Regions from separate parts of the Homo sapiens genome. Here regions 2 and 3 are each reported to be linked to region 1. The links are microRNA targets in miRTarBase. Many come from high-throughput screens and were not tested one by one. Region 1 holds a microRNA gene; each other region holds the end of a gene's coding sequence.

What was found. The annotated mature microRNA hsa-miR-6826-3p reads CUCCCCUCUCUUUCCUGUUCAG and lies in region 1 at 4,517-4,538, opposite strand. An mRNA with a match to its seed (bases 2 to 7 or 8) in the 3' UTR can be bound and repressed. Matches are read on the target gene's strand: a 7mer-m8 pairs with bases 2 to 8, a 7mer-A1 pairs with bases 2 to 7 and ends in A, and an 8mer does both.
Region 2: miRTarBase lists GDF6 as a target of hsa-miR-6826-3p. Seed matches in the 3' UTR shown: 7mer-m8 at 1,568-1,574 and 7mer-A1 at 2,192-2,198.
Region 3: miRTarBase lists MYO10 as a target of hsa-miR-6826-3p. Seed matches in the 3' UTR shown: 7mer-m8 at 1,602-1,608, 7mer-m8 at 1,832-1,838, 7mer-m8 at 2,781-2,787 and 7mer-A1 at 5,202-5,208.

Annotation. Positions count from the first base shown.
Region 1 is chr3:129,270,448-129,276,759 of GRCh38, reverse strand. MIR6826 (microRNA 6826) reads right to left here and starts at 4,614; the gene lies at 4,517-4,614. It overlaps COPG1 (coat protein complex I subunit gamma 1), which reads right to left. Exons shown (of 24, transcript NM_016128.4): 19 at 4,851-4,993; 20 at 4,345-4,516; 21 at 3,856-3,953; 22 at 1,784-1,922; 23 at 1,468-1,566.
Region 2 is chr8:96,139,448-96,145,759 of GRCh38, reverse strand. It overlaps GDF6 (growth differentiation factor 6), which reads left to right. Exons shown (of 2, transcript NM_001001557.4): 2 at 236-3,427. The coding sequence ends at 1,197. Among named protein-coding and RNA genes, the nearest start is that of GDF6, 18 kb to the left of the region's middle. RefSeq lists a silencer at 75-134.
Region 3 is chr5:16,661,726-16,668,037 of GRCh38, reverse strand. It overlaps MYO10 (myosin X), which reads left to right. Exons shown (of 41, transcript NM_012334.3): 41 at 1,245-6,131. The coding sequence ends at 1,346. Among named protein-coding and RNA genes, the nearest start is that of RETREG1, 48 kb to the right of the region's middle.

The DNA.
Region 1 (6,312 bases):
TATTTCAGGCTTCTGCTAAGTTCAAATGAACTGATGGACATAAAAGGCTTATATCTCATGTCACAGAGGCTCTTGCACGTTGACTGAATCTGAGAGCACAAATGAAGGGGACAGCCCCACCACGAGAAAACCACAGGGCAGGTGTCTGCAAGACCCAGGGGACTAGGTTGTTTCAATGTGGCTACAAACTGTCAGCTGTAGGCAGGGTACTGAAGCAGAGCCTCCTTTCAACCCTGTTTATAAACACTCAGCCAAAAAAAATCATCCCATTTCCTTTTGTTAACTGTTTTAGGTATGATAATTGTATTGTCCTTTAAAAAAGGGAAGGGGTCATTCTCTCTTAGAGAAACATACAGATACAGGATTTACATATAAAATGCTATTTCTGGAGTTTGCTAGTAAATAATCTGGGAAGGAGAATGAGTGTGGGTACACTCAGCCAACCCTGTAGAAAATAAGACAAAGGATATGAAGACAATGATCAGAAAAGGAAATACAAATGCCTCAACATTTAAGAAGATACTTAACTTCATTGAAAATACAAAAACTACACTAAGATATCATTGTCCACACAGACTGGAAAAGATCATAAAGTGTGGTAACATATTATGTTGTCCACAGTGTAGGAAGAAAGGTATACAATTCTATGGAAGGCAACTTGGAGTTATTTATCAAGATGAGAAACACAAATCACTTTGAACTGGTGATGCCTTGGAAAATTTATCCTACAGATATTCTCAGTGTACACATGCAAAGTAAACTGTGTGTGTGTGTGTGTGTGTGTGTGTACACGATTATTTACTGTAACATCTGTAATAGCAAGAGATTGAAATCAAACTAAATGTTCATCAGTAGTGGCTGTTCCATAGAATATGTGGTGCATCCACACAATGGAATACTAAGCAACTATAAAAAAAATGAGGATTCAGTTTGGGATGAAAAAAGTTCTGGAGATGGATGGTGGTCATAGTTTTACAATAGTGTGAATGTACTTAATGCCGCTGAACCATACACTTGAAAATGGTCGAAATGGTGAATTTTATGTATATTTTACCACAATTAAAAGAAAAAGAATGAGGAAGCTCTACATATTGACGGGGAAGATCTCTAAGATGCAATGTAAAGTGAAAAGCAAATCGGAGGACAATATATATACCATTTGTACATAAACATTTGAGTTAAAAAAAGGAAATGCGTTCCTATTAGCTTTTATAGCCATAAAATAACCGCAAGGTTATACAAGTATTGTTTGTAATAGTAACACTGGTCGCTTCTCGGAAGGGAATCTGAATGGCTGGCAGCCAAGGTAGGGAGGAAACATTTCGCTGCAGATTATTTTATACTTTGTGAATTTTAAATGCTGTGAATTTTGACTCCCCATATTTACAGTGGAGTCCTTAGCCCAGGATCCAGTGGCATCCAGGCTGTAAGCTATCCAGGCCCTCCCCATCTAGAAATGCCACTTACCAGCCAGGAGCAACGTGTGGGTGTTCTTGTTATCCGGCACTTTGTCTGACCTCTCACAAGGGTGCATTCCCAAGAACTTCACAATATTACCCACAGCCTCTGTAATGAGAAATCCCAATATTGTTAAGCCATCTTATCTGCCCTTTGTGCCACCACCACTCCCCCATGTTCTGAAGGGCTTTTAATGAAGTGGCATTTGACATATGTGCTCCAGACATGGCCCTGGATCCTTGGAGAGAAAAGGGATGAGCACTTCAATAGTAGCCAAAGATCTTGAACAGTAATTAGGCCAGAGATGGCATTCCCAGGATTTTACCTTCAAGTGTCTTGATGGTAGACAAGGTGAACGTTTCCTCCTTCTCAAATTCATCCCCTACCTCATCCCAGGCTGCTTCGAAGTTCAGTTTCATGACCTTTTGAATGTGATCAGCTACAGTAACTTCCAGATCTTCCAGCTGGAGAGATGGAGGTAGAAATCAGGCACCCATCTACACACCTACGGGCCTCTGCTCTGAACTCATCCACACATCCCTTCCTGCAACTCTTTCCACAGGTGCTTGCTCGGCACTGAGGACTGTGCTAGACTCTGGGGACATAGAGCAACTTGACCAGGTACCTATCCTTGAGGTGCCCAAAGGCAAATGGTATCCCTTCAACAGAAAACGCCCTAATCCCAAGTACCAATCTACTAATTCAGCCTAGAGCCGCCTGCTGTGAGATCACATCTCTTCTAAGCCTGCCTAGTGTCAGTGCTTCCAGGACCTGGCATGCAGGGAATTACATAGCATTCTCAGAGGTCTGCTTCCTATGCCTGTCCCTCCTAGGGGATGATGAGCTCTTCAGGACCAGCAGCTGTTTCTAGTTCAGCAGAAACTAGCAGAAACCTCCTACCCCAGCTGTGTCCTCTGGATTTGACAGATCCTGAATCTCTATCTCCATTTCAGCTGTGTCTTCCCTGAACTTGACACATAATACTCCCACTGAGTCTACATGAAGGTTCCCCATTCATTCTCCCATCAGATTTTCACTGAGGCCCTACTCCTGTGGATGTTTACAGTGTATATAAATACAACTTAGACCCAGCTCTCTCTCTCTTTTTTTTTTTTCTTCATCTCTGGATGGGCTCAAACAGACCCAGCTCTCTCAAGGAGCTCACTTGGTCTTAGAGCAGCTCCTGCCTCGGGGTCATTTCCAGCTCAAGGAAGGTCCATCCATCCTCAACTGTGACTCTAGGATGACACAATGGCGAATGTCAGTTGTATTCCACTGTGACTGTCCCTCTAGTCAGGAGGAGTTCTAACAGTCCCCATCCACAGGCTGAGCATAATGGTCTGCACTCAGATGGCCCTGAGCCACTGCCCCAAAGTCAGACCTCAGAAGGATCCTGTACTTAGTTCCACCGAGCTAAGATAGGAGAATTTAGAAGGGCTATTCCAGTGCATGAAAGGACTGCCCAGCACAGCAAACAGGTCAAATTTATCCAGAAAGCATTTGACAAGAGGAATCAAAATGTCTTAAAATCATGCTTACCCTTTGACCCAACTATTCTCCTTCTAGGAATCTATCCTAAAGAAATAATCTAAAATGCAGATAAAAATTTGTATCTAAAGGGATATTTAATGCAGCAATATAAATAGTGAAAATATGGAAACCCAAATGCCCAACATTAAAGGAGTGAAAAGTCAATCAAGTTTTGACATAGTATATAACAGTATTTTAAATCCACTAAAAAAATTGTGTTTATGAAGTATTTGTAATGATACTGGAAAATACACTATGGTTTTAAAATAGCAAGGTCTACACTGTAAGAATGATTTCAATTATACCACTTCCCCCCAAAAATAACTCTAAGGATTATGAGTAATGTTTTCCTGTTGTTCATACTTTGTTTTGAATTTTGTTTTTGTATTTCCCAAGTTTTCTTTTTACACATGAACATGTATTTCCATAAGTTTAAAAAGTTATTTTAGGCCGGGCGCGGTGGCTCACGCCTGTAATCCCAACACTTTGGGAGGCCAAGGTAGGTGGATCACCTGAGGTGAGGAGATCGCGACCAGCCTAGCCAACATGGTGAAACCCTATCTCTACCAAAAATACAAAAAATTTGGCAGGCATGGTGGTGGGCGCCTGTAATCCCAGCTACTTGGGAGGCTGAGGCAAGAGAATCGCTTGGACCAGGGAGACAGAGGTTGCAGTGAGCCGAGATCGCGCCACTGCACTCCAGCCTGGGTAACAAAAGAGAAACTTCATCTCAAAAAATAAAAATAAAAAAATAAAATTTTAAAGAGCTAAAAAGCCAAAAACAGCTCCAGTCTCACTGTCAGTTCCTGAAGGGAGTTGCTTTGCAGCCTCAGCACAAAACTGAGCTTCCTGACACCAGGATCTTACCACATACTCATCCTCATAGCCTTCGTCATCAGTCTCCCCAGTGGTGGGATCACAGTCCTTGACAGTGAACTTCATCATGCAGCTGAATGTGCAGGCCACTGTGGGGAAGAGAGGCTGGGTAGTTAGGATGTCCCCAGCCTGCAGGGGATGGGCTCCTCCTGCAGGGGACAAGCAGGCAGGGGTCACAGCCTGCTTTCTAGGCCCCTGCTATGTTATTAGTAGCAGCAACAAGCCATCCAATCCCACAAAGCTGGACAGAGGGTGCCACCTTGTAGGACAGGAAAGTCATGAGTTCTAGTGAGATCCTGTCTCTTTAAAAAAAAAAATTTTTAAAGAAGAGCACTTGGGACTCAGCTATTCTTCTTCTTGGGACTGAAATCAAGGAGCTGAAGCTCTAATAGAAGGCAAACAGCTGGTGCCCAGCCGCCCACCTCCTCCTGACCCCATGAGCTCCCAGGAGGATAGGGTGGTATCTGGAGAGGGGCTCACCAGCTGTGGGGTCTTCTTTGGGCAGTGCCACCAGTGTGTAGCAGGTCCCGGGCTGGTTGTAGGGCAGGCTCCGGGCAGGCACGTAACAGAGCACCTCATAGGCCTCAGTGGGCTCCATCTGCACTGTGACATTCTCCAAGGTCTGGTCATTGAGTGTGTTTGTGCAGTCAAACTGAACAGGAAAGAGAGGGGAGCTTAAACATTGCACTAGGTCCGAGCCATGCTGCAGAGGAAAAGCCAGGAGGTCCCACCTCTTTCCTATTGACCAAGGTGATTCCCATCCCAGTCCCCCTGCCCCAGGTTCCCTGTCTTCATGCTGACAATCGGGAGCCATGGATGTCCCGAGTCAAGAGATATGAGAGACCGACCTGTTGGGGACAGATTCTGTCATCAAGTTGGGCTCCCAACCAATGCAGTGTGGGGACCCATGACCCTACAGGACCTGCCAGACCTGGGACAACTCCCTGGGCGCATGCCCCAGCAGGGCCTCAGCCCACCTTGCTCACCTGAAAAACCATGTGGTTGGTGAAGGTGTGTTTGGTGCAGCGGATGACATACTCCGTCTCTGACTCGGTGAGGGCCACGGGCTCAGGCGAGGACTTGAAGAGGGGCCCAAGACCGCGGAACTCTGGCACTGCTGCCAACTGCTCTGAAATCCACAGGCCACATTCACTCAGCTTCTCGATCCCCAGACCAACTTGTTGATGGTTTCTAATAAATTCCCATGACCATTCTCAAGGTGTTCCACCCTACCTTAGATGGATAGATATGTTTACCCAACTGGCTACTCATTATTTCCTGAATATATCCATGCATTTTCTCATCTCCCTGACTTCGCTCATGTGGCACAACCCCCCACAAATACTCTCCCCATCTCTGTACCATGAAAGACCTCAGAAGCAAAAAACTGATATGAGACCACAAAATCCTAGACCTAATTGGAGAATCCCCCAGCTATAGAAGCTTAGCAAGGATTTCCGCCCCCTACCGCAGCAAGGATTCTTAAAAGAAGGTGACAATTAGGAAAATAAGATCGATACTGCTATAGCTACAAAATCAGACAAAATAACAAACTGGTCCTATATATTTATCAGTTAAGACAAATGGCCAATAAAGAGATATTTCAGAATGAGAGTGTTGCAGAAAACCTAACTTAGAATTGTTTGTGTCTGGTAAGACCTATCCCTACACCCTATGCCCAGGTTCAAGCACTGGATTCAAGCACAGGCCCATGGGACCCCACCCTGGCTGGTCCTGGCATTCCTTGCAAACTAAAGGGAATAACCCAAGTGAATGAGGCATCTGGCAGATGTGTGCACATGGTGTCCACCTATAATGGCTACAGCTGCCACTCTTGTACCTATTCTATGGCAGGATTCCTCGCACTATGACCATGGATCAACTGTATCAGAATTACTAGGGGTTGGCGGCAGAGCTTGCTAAAAACTCAGACTCCATCCCAAATCTACTACATCAGAATCTCTGGTTTCAGGATCAAGGAATTTGCATTTCTAACATGTTTCCTCAGATTATTCCAATATATACTGATATTTAAAGACCACTGCTCTAAGATTTTCAACTTGTCTTCCCAATTAATTGAACTCCATGAGAACAGGGATTGTGCTTTGAGGCCATGGATCTGATATTTTTCCCTTTACTTAGAAGGTACTCAATTCACGTTTCAGACATAGAGAAAGGTAGGCCTTATTTTTATTATTTTGCTTTTTTCCTCCACAAAAAGTCAGCCTATGTGACCACTTCAGCCCTCTGCAGCCTGAAGACTGAATCTAATGAATATGCAGGCAATAAAAAGCCCAGAACAATCCAGGCTAGATATTAGGAGGAACTTTTGGGCCACCATGACCATCAACCACTAGAGTGCTTTTCTATTGATATTTATTTTCTTGGGACTCAGAGTTTTGGGCCTGATACTTACTCCCTGGGGGATTCTGTTGGTAGGGTTTCAGA
Region 2 (6,312 bases), not on the chromosome of region 1:
GCCCTGAGAGTCCGGAGCTGACGCGAAGGAGGGGGCCCGTCCTGGCGCGCCCCCTTCCCCGCGCCATGCACCAGCCAGATGGGGAGCCGGGGTGGTCAGGCCCTGGGCCGGGCAAGCTGGACTGCCCGGCCGACCTGCCCCCACTCCCCGCCCTTTTCCTCCCGGGGCGGCCGAAGAGCACCGGGCTGATCTCCCCCTTAAGTGAAACTGACTGTAATTATTTTTTATCTCGCAGACGATCTCTCGCACACTCCTCTCCGGAGACAGAAGTATTTGTTTGATGTGTCCATGCTCTCAGACAAAGAAGAGCTGGTGGGCGCGGAGCTGCGGCTCTTTCGCCAGGCGCCCTCAGCGCCCTGGGGGCCACCAGCCGGGCCGCTCCACGTGCAGCTCTTCCCTTGCCTTTCGCCCCTACTGCTGGACGCGCGGACCCTGGACCCGCAGGGGGCGCCGCCGGCCGGCTGGGAAGTCTTCGACGTGTGGCAGGGCCTGCGCCACCAGCCCTGGAAGCAGCTGTGCTTGGAGCTGCGGGCCGCATGGGGCGAGCTGGACGCCGGGGAGGCCGAGGCGCGCGCGCGGGGACCCCAGCAACCGCCGCCCCCGGACCTGCGGAGTCTGGGCTTCGGCCGGAGGGTGCGGCCTCCCCAGGAGCGGGCCCTGCTGGTGGTATTCACCAGATCCCAGCGCAAGAACCTGTTCGCAGAGATGCGCGAGCAGCTGGGCTCGGCCGAGGCTGCGGGCCCGGGCGCGGGCGCCGAGGGGTCGTGGCCGCCGCCGTCGGGCGCCCCGGATGCCAGGCCTTGGCTGCCCTCGCCCGGCCGCCGGCGGCGGCGCACGGCCTTCGCCAGTCGCCATGGCAAGCGGCACGGCAAGAAGTCCAGGCTACGCTGCAGCAAGAAGCCCCTGCACGTGAACTTCAAGGAGCTGGGCTGGGACGACTGGATTATCGCGCCCCTGGAGTACGAGGCCTATCACTGCGAGGGTGTATGCGACTTCCCGCTGCGCTCGCACCTGGAGCCCACCAACCACGCCATCATCCAGACGCTGATGAACTCCATGGACCCCGGCTCCACCCCGCCCAGCTGCTGCGTGCCCACCAAATTGACTCCCATCAGCATTCTATACATCGACGCGGGCAATAATGTGGTCTACAAGCAGTACGAGGACATGGTGGTGGAGTCGTGCGGCTGCAGGTAGCGGTGCCTTTCCCGCCGCCTTGGCCCGGAACCAAGGTGGGCCAAGGTCCGCCTTGCAGGGGAGGCCTGGCTGCAGAGAGGCGGAGGAGGAAGCTGGCGCTGGGGGAGGCTGAGGGTGAGGGAACAGCCTGGATGTGAGAGCCGGTGGGAGAGAAGGGAGCGCAGCCTTCCCAGTAACTTCTACCTGCCAGCCCAGAGGGAAATATGGATTTTCACACCTTGCCTGGCCACCCTGGAAAAACAAGCCAAGGAGGATTTCTTTTGTTCTGTTTTCTCTCTCTCTCTCTCTCTCTCTCTCTCTCTCTCTCTCTCTCTCTCTATTACTGTGGCTTTGGATTTCCTTATGTGTCTTACAGGCTTTGATAGAAGGGGAGGGGAGGAGAGATGCATACCCGTTTCTCAACTGCTCCATGGATTGAAAAAATAACAGTTTAAAAAGGGAAACAATGTGGGAGGAAGAATCACCGTTGACGCATCTTGATTTGGTTGGTTTTTACATGTGTAAAGAAGGTGGGGTCTCTGGCCATGTCATAGCCCATGTCTTGTGCCCTCCCACACAGAAAGTGTTAGATAGGGAAATTGGCAAAAAGAATAGTTAAGTCAGGAATGGTCCTGCCTATAGAAGAGCTTTGAGAGAGGTGGGCCCACGGGTGCCCCTCTCACCCATTTGTGTACTCTGTGAGTTTACCAGCTCTGCCCTGGCCTCTTTCGGTACCAGGAACTGGCAACCTTCATCTCACTCCTGAGGGCCCAGGTCTCTGCCTTCATTGTTGCTTTTTCTGGTGGGGGCAAGGGGAGCTGGTATGGATGGAATGACAAGAATTAGTCCAAATGGAACCCCTTGAAGGATAATGAGAAACCACAAGGCCTGCCTCTGACTGGGGCTGACACGGAGGTGCATTAGCCCAGGCTGGAGGTAGCCCACCCAAATGCCCTTTCTGATTCTAATTGATTTCTTTCAACAGAATTTGCCAAAATTCAGACATGCACTTCTAAGGGGAAGGTGATTTTCCAGTTCAAAAAAATGGGCAGGAGTGGGGAACAAAACAATTAACGTAAGAGCTACAAAGGAGGGAAAAGGAACCAAGAAGTAGAAGGAGTCCCATCAGGAGGGAAGATGGTGGGCCTCAGGGAGGATGGGGATCAAGGGACAGGCCAGGAGCCAGGAGTGGGGAAGGGAGGGATGAAAGGGGACACAAGTCCCTGTCTCTGAAGTTTCTTTAAAATCTGAGTTCCCTCCCCTCTCTTTGACATTCCTGAAAGATTACCAGCCAGCAATAGCCCAGGGCTCCCCCAAAAGAATTGGTTCAGATTGTAATTATCAGTTAGGCAATGTTTTTAAAACTTAGTAATGAGAAACTGTGAAAAGAGCCAAGTGTTACATTGAGCTTGGGGTGGGAGATGGGGAACAGGCAGTGAGGAAGGAGACAGGGGTGGAATTCGTCTTCTGGGAGGAAGCTGGAGAGAGCACAGTGAAATTGAAATACCCATTCCCAGATAGTCAAAAACATGAACTTTCCCCCAGCCTGCACCAGTATTGTTTTCAAACATTGCCCATGAGTAGGCCCTTTGAAGAGTTAGCTTCCTCCTCATCTTTGACTATAAAATTGTTTAATCAATGGAATTTGTACCAGCCTTTTAAAAAGTTTTAGTTTTTCCTAAGTGATTTTGCTCTCTTCCAATCTAAACCTGTTGCTTGTTTGGTTCAGAGAACTACAAACTGTCAAAGAAAGGGTGGGGATGATAAGAAATGCTAATATAAAAATGCTAAGTGAAAAAAAGACTTGGCCAGGAGAAATAATTTAAAATGCACATTTGCTTTGGATGCACTGTTGTTCTGTTAAGGCTGTATATATTTGTTTATTTAAGGTGACTGAAAGTGCAAAGAGGAAATGGACAGCATGCAATTCATCCTAATGTACAAAACGTTATATGCACTCAAATGTTATAATTTCTAATATTTTTAAAGTTTATATTCGAGTTGTACAAAGTTAAGCATTAATCAGATATTTCATTTTTTCATAATGTTACCATTTTCTTAAATATTATTACAAAATTTTAAGTCTGTCTAATGGAGAGTTTTTTTTAAACTGTCTACCTCATATAATACAAGTATTTACAACGCTAAAGTTACCAGAGGTCAATGAATAATCAAAACATTTTTTACAGTACACCTTTCCTGGATGATATGCAATCGAATGCTATATTATTAAACGCATTTTTCTCCTTAATAACTCAGCCTGGTTTATATGGATCGATTTAGAAAAATCCTTTTCTCACAGAATTATTGTCAGAGGTAGTTTGTTCCAGTTTGGGACTCAATGCCTGAAAACAAACTGATGATTTTAAAAATCTATCATTTAGAGCATTACACTTTTTCTTCATAACTCTTCAATAACTCCTTTTTCATGACATTTTTATTACTAGAATAAAGCCAAATCCTTGTCACCTATTAGACCAGTGTTTATAAGCCTGTCCCTCATCCCAGCACTTCAGGAATCCAAATAGAAATTGGATTATTTCTTAGTTGCTTTAATGTTGAAAAAAACAAAGCAGTAATGTTGAGGTAAGAAAGTGGTTACCTAAGTCAACCAAGATGTCAGTGTAATTACTCATTACCTTTGTGGCATACTGGAAGCAGAAGATACAAATGTTTTTCTGTGCTTGCTGTGAATTGGGGAACTCATGTGTGAATGTGAGCACTCACTCTATCAGGCATGATGTTATTCTACACATGTAGAATCTCATTTAAAACCCTCAGAGGTAGATATTATTATAATCCCCATTTTACAAATGAGGAAACCAAGGTGCAGAGAATTTAAGTAACCTGCCTGTGGGCATCCAGCCAGGGAATTGTAGTTAGGATTTAAAATTAGTTCATTCAGACTCTAGAGCCTGAGGAGTTAACCACTGTACAATTCTGTCCCCAGATCATCTACCTGCTCTCTGATTGGTCCCTAAATATTGACGTGGGGAATGTGCAGTTAGCTACAATCCTTAGGGTTGGTCAGCTGGCGGAGGAGGAAATGGTACAGAGGCCAGCAGCATTGCCTGAAGTTTTGGAGTGTGTGAATTGTAACTGCTGGCATAAGGGCAGCTGAAAAATGGGTATGGGTTGCAAAACTCCTTGAATTCTTAGCTTTGGGCTTGGCCCAGTAAACTTACAGTTTAAGCCATTACTGGGCTTTGGCTCTCTACTCTTTGCTGGGACTGCCCTGGGTGTGATTTTTATGAGTTTTGGTTATCAACACAATAGTCAATTTACAAATAGGTCATGTTTCAAAAAACTGGTTGCAAGTGGACCCTTAGAACTAAGAAACACTTTCCCGTGGACACGGTGATTGTTTGAGTTTCCAGGTCATTTTGCAGAAACTTTATTTACCCAAATGGAGCTTTTTAACAAAGCAATTTTGACTTCTGAGTTTTGAGAGGATGTAATCACCTGGGAAAGTGGAAAAGAGACTGTCTTTTCTGGGTGGAAGCTGCTTTTGAAATCGTTGAGAATTCTTTGCATTTTTGCACCACTCTTTTTATACCTGGCACCCAATTTGCCCAAGCTCACGAATGCCCTGAGGACTACCAGACTTGTACTTTAATATGTTCCCAATCCAGAGATTTCCCTTTTCTGAACAAATATTTTCATGTCTAAAGTTATTTTTCTTTCTTTCCTCTATTAGTTTATTCCTTAACTCAGGTGTTAGGAAAAACACAATCTGATTGAATTGCATGAAAATGTAAATATCTCCTAGCCTTTAACCTTAGAGAGATTTGTATTTTAAGAAGAAAATCTTGGTTAACTCAGATTTTTTGGGAATGATGTGAAAAACTCCAGAACATAGAGGAGAAGATTCAACACTCAAGCTACACACAATTTTGAGAGTTAAACGTGAATGAGGCACTAGTGATAAAAGAATGAATAGAGACACTTGTCAATGTGAGTTTTTGGTGTCCCTTAGGAGAAATTCTGTGCAATAAAGAGGCTATTTATGGCAGTTTGTTTTATTGTTAATATCTAACATATTAAAGCAAAGAATTTAATAACTTAGTTTTTAAATTTTCTCTAAAGCTTTTAAGTTTAATGTGTCCAGGCCCCATTATGATATGTTTTTGCCCTTGTTTTGCTCATTGCTATATTCCTAGCACCCAGAATAGTGCCTAACACCTAGCAGACACCCAGTAAATATTCTGAATGAATACATTACAAATCCTAGTCTACTTGTAAATCTAGAAATTTTGACAGTCACTTTCAAGGGAGCCTTTGATTGATGTCTTCAACTCACATTGAATGGACCAACCTCCCTTAATTAACCAATTCTAGTTTCAACCTAGTTAATAAACTTCCTTTAACTATTGTACATTGCTTTTATGAGCTTAATATATCCCATTTTCTTTTTAAGGCACTTCAAATTTCTTTAATGGGAAAAACCTTCCAATATACTTAAACCATTCCAAGTAAAGCTAATACACTAAACTTCTAAAGATGGTGATTCATAAGTTCTATTAAGCATCCCAATGTAGTTTATACCTTTTGACTCAACATCAGGAACCTACAATTAATTACTCAACTACCCATTTAAATTGGTGTTAGAGGCTAACCTGTTAGGTATCTTAATAAAGTACATTTTTAAAGCTCGCAAACATTTTATTTATTTATTTATTATTTTTGGAGATGGAGTCTCACTCTGTTGCCCAGGCTGGAGTGCAGTGGTGCGATCTCAGCTCACTGAAACCTCTGCCTCCTGGGTTCAAGCGGTTCTCCCTCCTCAGCCTCCTCAGTAGCTGGGATTACAGGTGCTCGCCACCACGCCCGTCTAATTTTTGTATTTTAGTAGGGCTAATTTTTGTATTTTTAGTAGAGAGGAGATTTTGCCATGTTGGCCAGGCTGGTCTTGAACTCCTGACCTTAGGTGATCTGCCCACCTCAGCCTCCCAAAGTGCTGGACTTACAGGCATGCCCAGCCACAAATATTTTAAATACCAAATATATATAGATTGTCCCAATTATTACAAAAACTATTTTTGAACTTAATACAAAATTGTTAATAGTTTAAATTTGATTTACCTAATCTCTGTACTTCATTCTAAAATATCTTTGGGTTAAAAACGCTAATCCATT
Region 3 (6,312 bases), not on the chromosome of region 1:
GTCTTACCCTTGGAGGAAAGGCAGAGAAAGGGAAGTGACATAGATGTCCCTGAAAAAGTATATTATTTGCAACAAAACCTTATGAAAATTAGTTAGCAATTATAGCGGTGTCACAGCTGTGAGACTCGGCTCTGGTGGCCTCTTGAGACCAGGAGGGAGCCGGGAGCATGACCATCCTGGGTGCAGCTCATTCTGGATTGTGAAACCACACACACTAAAAGGCCTCTAAATATATGTGCTACCAGCCTCCAAGTTTAAAAAATATAATACAAGAAGCTTATTGAGGCTTCCACAAAGGGAACAGCTAGCAAGTCAACGTGGTGAGTGGAGAGGAATCACCTGCTGCCTGGTTTGGAATGGAGAGGCATTGAGGAGGGCGTTCCAGCTGCTTGGAGGATGTGGCATTGTAGGTTCCCTAGGCTGATGGGGAGTCGTGCAGTGAGAGGGAAGAGGGTGGAGAGCCCTTGACTCAAGGGTCCCAGGTGCCAGGCTGCAGGATTTGGTGAGATCCAGTAGACAACAAGGAACCACTGTGGGATCTTTGATTGTGCATGGCATAACAGTGAATTTACAGACAGTGATCTCTGGGGTGGGACTGGAAGGGAAGAGAGCAAACAGGGATATGGAAGCCGGTTATGATGCCTGCACAGGGATCCAGGCCAGCTGTGAGAAGGGGTGGCAATGACGGGGACATCATGGGAGGGAGCTAATGGAGATCCCAGCTGGAGGAGGTGGCTGGTGTGGAGCAGAAGCTGGCCTGGCGTCTGGGGAGCTGGCCGCTCTCCCAGCCCCTGGGGCCTCAGTTATCTTGTTTCTTCAGCTGCTTCCTAAGGAGTTGACTAGAATTAGATGATCCAGTCTTTAAAGGCTGTAATTGTGGACTCTGTCATTTCACATTTATTTTAAGCGGGGATAGTAATCCCAGCACTGTTGACACCGAGTAACTTCAGCGTCCTCGGTTAGTTCTGGATTTTAATGTGCAAAGTCTGACAGTTTCCATCAAGCCAAGTTGGCACGTTTGTGCCACCAGGTGGTGCACATTGTATTTGGAAAAGCTGAGATTCCACCTTTCCCTGATGAGGAAGGTGAAAGTGGTTAAACTTCTGGCTTCCTGCAAAATGGGATCCGTCGATTAGCATGGAAGGCTACGGGAGGGTGCCCAGGGAATGTCTGGATTATTAGGCAGGGCCCTTTGCCTGGGGGAGACTTGTGACGCTGTGTCGGTTCTGCTTCCCCCTGGGCAGGTGGTGGATGTGGCCAAGCTCATGAAAGCCTACATCAGCATGATCGTGAAGAAGCGCTACAGCACGACACGCTCCGCCAGCAGCCAGGGCAGCTCCAGGTGAAGGCGGGACAGAGCCCACCTGTCTTTGCTACCTGAACGCACCACCCTCTGGCCTAGGCTGGCTCCAGTGTGCCATGCCCAGCCAAAACAAACACAGAGCTGCCCAGGCTTTCTGGAAGCTTCTGGTCTGAGGGAGGTGTCTCCGAGGATCCTTTTGCCTGCCGCCTTCATTGATCCTGTATTAAGCTGTCAACTTTAACAGTCTGCACAGTTTCCAAAGCTTTACTACTCTTAGAGGACACATGCCTTAAAAAAGGAGGGGAGGAACCACGCTGCCACCAAAGCAGCCGGAAGTGCCTTAACTTGTGGAACCAACACTAATCGACCGTAACTGTGCTACTGAAGGGAACTGCCTTTCCCCCTTCTGGGGGAGACTTAACAGAGCGTGGAAGGGGGGCATTCTCTGTCAATGATGCACTAACCTCCCAACCTGATTTCCCCGAATCTGAGGGAAGGTGAGGGAGTGGGAAGGGGGATGGAGAGCTCGAGGGGACAGTGTGTTTGAGCTGGAGTGCTGCGGGCAGCCTTTCTCATGGAATGACATGAATCAACTTTTTTCTTTGTTTCATCTTTTAAGTGTACGTGCTTGCCTGTTCGTGCATGTGTTCATAAACTCAACACTTTAATCATGGTTTCATGAGCATTAAAAAGCAAAGGGAAAAAGGATGTGTAATGGTGTACACAGTCTGTATATTTTAATAATGCAGAGCTATAGTCTCAATTGTTACTTTATAAGGTGGTTTTATTAACAAACCCAAATCCTGGATTTTCCTGTCTTTGCTGTATTTTGAAAAACACGTGTTGACTCCATTGTTTTACATGTAGCAAAGTCTGCCATCTGTGTCTGCTGTATTATAAACAGATAAGCAGCCTACAAGATAACTGTATTTATAAACCACTCTTCAACAGCTGGCTCCAGTGCTGGTTTTAGAACAAGAATGAAGTCATTTTGGAGTCTTTCATGTCTAAAAGATTTAAGTTAAAAACAAAGTGTTACTTGGAAGGTTAGCTTCTATCATTCTGGATAGATTACAGATATAATAACCATGTTGACTATGGGGGAGAGACGCTGCATTCCAGAAACGTCTTAACACTTGAGTGAATCTTCAAAGGACCCTGACATTAAATGCTGAGGCTTTAATACACACATATTTTATCCCAAGTTTATAATGGTGGTCTGAACAAGGCACCTGTAAATAAATCAGCATTTATGACCAGAAGAAAAATAATCTGGTCTTGGACTTTTTATTTTTATATGGAAAAGTTTTAAGGACTTGGGCCAACTAAGTCTACCCACACGAAAAAAGAAATTTGCCTTGTCCCTTTGTGTACAACCATGCAAAACTGTTTGTTGGCTCACAGAAGTTCTGACAATAAAAGATACTAGCTAACACGCTGTGTGTTTCCTTTATCAGAGGAGGCTCTAAAAACCATGGAGGGGAGGCTTATTTTTGTTTTGGCTTTTTGGTGGTTTTTTTTTTTTTTCTTTAGAGACAGAGTCTCACTCTGTTACCCAGGCTGGAGTACAGTGGCGTGATCTCGGCTCACTGCAGCCTCTGCCTCCTGGGTTCTAGCGATTCTCCTGCCTCAGCCTCCCAAGGAGTTGGGAGTACAGGCATGCATCACCACGCCTGGCTAGGTTTTGTATTTTTAGTAGAGATGGGGTTTCACCATGTTGGCCAGGCTGGTCTCGATCCACCTGCCTCAGCCTCCCAAAGTGCTGGGATTACAGGTGTGAGCTACCGCACCCGGCCGGCTTTTTGGTGTTAATGCTATGGTTTCAGTGTCTGGGCTTTGTGTTTGTTTCATGGACTTGCTCATCAGGTCTAAACACAGATCTGCAGCTGTCTCCACTGCTCTTGTAGACACTGAGTGTGACTTCAAGAAAGCAAAAGAAGGGACTGGTAAATGAAGTCACACACAGCTGAGGACTTGAAATGTGTTTATGTCAGACAGTCCCCTATGTCAGCCCCAAAGTGTGCCTGATCTTGCAACCCTGGATCCTAGAACCTGCCTGCACCTCCCTGTGGACCAGAACACACAGGTAGGCAGTTTGGTTGCCAATGTACCCAAACCACCAGGCCAGGCGTCTAGCATGAGCAAGCGCCACTTCTCTTGCAGACCACTGACTCCCACCCTCTGCTCATGCTCACGGATGGCTTCTTCCCATTCTGCAGGGATTGGGATGGAACCTGAAGCCAGGTGCTGCCTGAAGCCTGTGGCCCCGCCAGGCACCCAAGGAAAGCCGGCAAAGACTTGGATGTGTGTTGTCTTTGTTTTTATTTTAGGCTCAGAAAGAATTTGACAGAAGTCTTCTTTCTACTGCTCACCTCTCAGGATTCCCTCTGTGACTTAATTTACTCTGGAAGGCTGTCGCCCGCCCTCAATTATAGATGGGGAAATAGGCAAGGAAAGGCATGACTCAGATTGGGGGGGTTAGAGCAGCACCATAGTTAGAACATAGATTTACATGTGAGCCTTTACATGGCATAGTTGTGGTTTTGTTTTAGCCTTTTATTTAGAAATAATTACAGACTCAGAGAAAGTTGCAACAGAACGTACAGGGAGGCCTGCGTGCCCTTCAGTTTCCCCAGTGGTAGCATCCCCCATCACTGTAGAGCAGCATCACAGCTGACAAAGTACCGTTGAGCTTCCCCTAGCCACAGAACCTATTCCAATTTTACTGCTTTTACATGCACTCATTGGTGTGTGTGATGTCAGTTGCTTTCAACAAGGTCAGTGAAGTGCAGTCGTCCCTTGGTATCCAAGGGAGATTGGTTCCAGGACCCCCTCCCCCCACCCCTGAGGATACAAAATTCACAGATGCTCAAGTCCCTGCTATACAGTGGTATAATATTTGCATAGAACCTGCACACATCTTTCCTTACCCTTTAAATCATCTCCAGGTTACAGATACCTAGCACAACATAAATGCTGCATAAATAGCTGTTATACCGTGTGTGTCTGTGTTTTAAACATTGTTTATTTGAGACAGGGTCTCACTCTGTCACCAGGCTACAGTGCAGAGGCACAGTCACAGCTCATTGCAGCCTCAACCTCCTGGGCTCAAGCAGTCCTCCACCTCAGCCTCCCAAAGTGCTAGGATGACAGGTGTGAGCCACTGTGCCCCACCAAAAAAAGTTTTTTCAAATATTTTCTATCTGTGGTTGGATTCAGACCACATGAACACTGAGGGCTGACTGTAGTTTTGAATGTCTGTTACTGAGGAGGCACCAGCATAAAGTATTTTATCACTTCAGACGCTGACAATCTAGTATTTTTAATTTTTAAATCTTTTGAAAGCTAATACATATAGGTGATTTGTAAAAAAAAAAAAAAAAAAAAAAAAAAAAAAAAAAAAAAACAACTAGAAGTAAAATGTTACTTTTTTCCAGCTGTAGCCCTAATTACCCATTTTCCTTTCCCAGAAACAGCTATTTTTACTGTTTTATTGAATATTCTCTCAAAAATAATTTAAGCTGTCCAATCATTTACTCATACATACATATATATCCCCATCCTCATTTTTAATAGATGGAAACAAACTGTTGTAGCTTACTTTTTTCTCAGCATAGTATTTTAGCTCTAATCCTACATTAATACCTATAGAATTGCCTTATTCTTTTTGATGATTATATAGTACCTCAGATAGCTCTGTGGAAAAACAGGATAAGGCCATCTGTATTAGTCCATTCTCACACTGCTAGAAGGACATGCCTGAGACTGGGTAATTTATAAAGAAAAAGAAGTTGAATGGACTCAGTCTCACATGCCTGGGGAGGCCTCACAATCATGGTGGACAGCAAAGGAGGAGAAAAGGCACATCTTATATGGCAGCAGGCAAGAGAGCTTGCACAGGGGAACTCCCTTTTATAAAACCATTAGCTCTTCCGAGACATACTCACTATGGACAAGAACAGCATGGGAAAACCCACCCCCATGATTCAATTACCTCCCATCAGGTCCCTCCCGTGACAGGTGGGGATTATGGGAGCTATAATTCAAGATGAGATTTGGGTGGGGACAGAGCCAAACCATATCACCACCTAAGTTCTCTGTAAAAATAGTTTCAGCCAGGCATGCTGGCTCACGCCTGTAATCCCAGCATGTTGGAAGGCCGAGGCAAGAGGATCGCTTGAGCTCCGGAGTTCAAGACCAGTCTGGGCAACATGACAAGACCCTGTCTCCACAGAAAATTAACATTAGCCAGGTGTGGTGGTGCGCATCTGTAGTCCCAGCTACTGGGGAGGCTGAGATGAGAAAATCGTTTGAACCCAGGAGGTCAAAGCTGCAGGGAGCCATGATGGTGCCACTGCATTCTGGTGTGGGTGACAGAGCAAGACTCTGTCTCCAAAAAAAAAAAAAAAAAAAAAAAATAGTTCAGAAATCTAAGACAGCACTTTTTTTAGTTACTAAGCCTTTTATTCAGATAGCACACTAAATTGGGGTCAAAAATCTGCTATAGTAAAGTTCTGTATTTGTGTGTATTGGGTATAAAAATAAGCGCTTTAATTAATTTGAAAATCCCTATTCACCAAAAGTTTATACTGTAATAGGGGACAAAACAAGTGCATAAAGCTAAATTTAGCCAGTACATTTATAACTGTTTCATTCAGTTGATCAGAGAAGCATCACGATTGCTGGAAAATATCGGACCTGGATTCAAGGTTTGGCATTGCTGTTTTCAAAGTATGTAATCTTTTAGATCAGGGGTCAGTGAACTACAGTACAGAGACCAAATCTACCCTGCCACCTGTTTTTGTGAATAAAGTTTTATTGAAACAGATCTCTGTGTATTTGTGGATGGTTTGTCTATGTATGCATTTGTACCACAACAGCAGAGATGAGTAGTTGCAACAGAGGCCCCCTACAAAGCTGACAATATTTACTCTCTGGTTCTTCATAGAAAGAATGTGCTGACTTCTGTTGCAGGTAATTATGGAAGTATGTTTCCTTTAGAAGCAAAG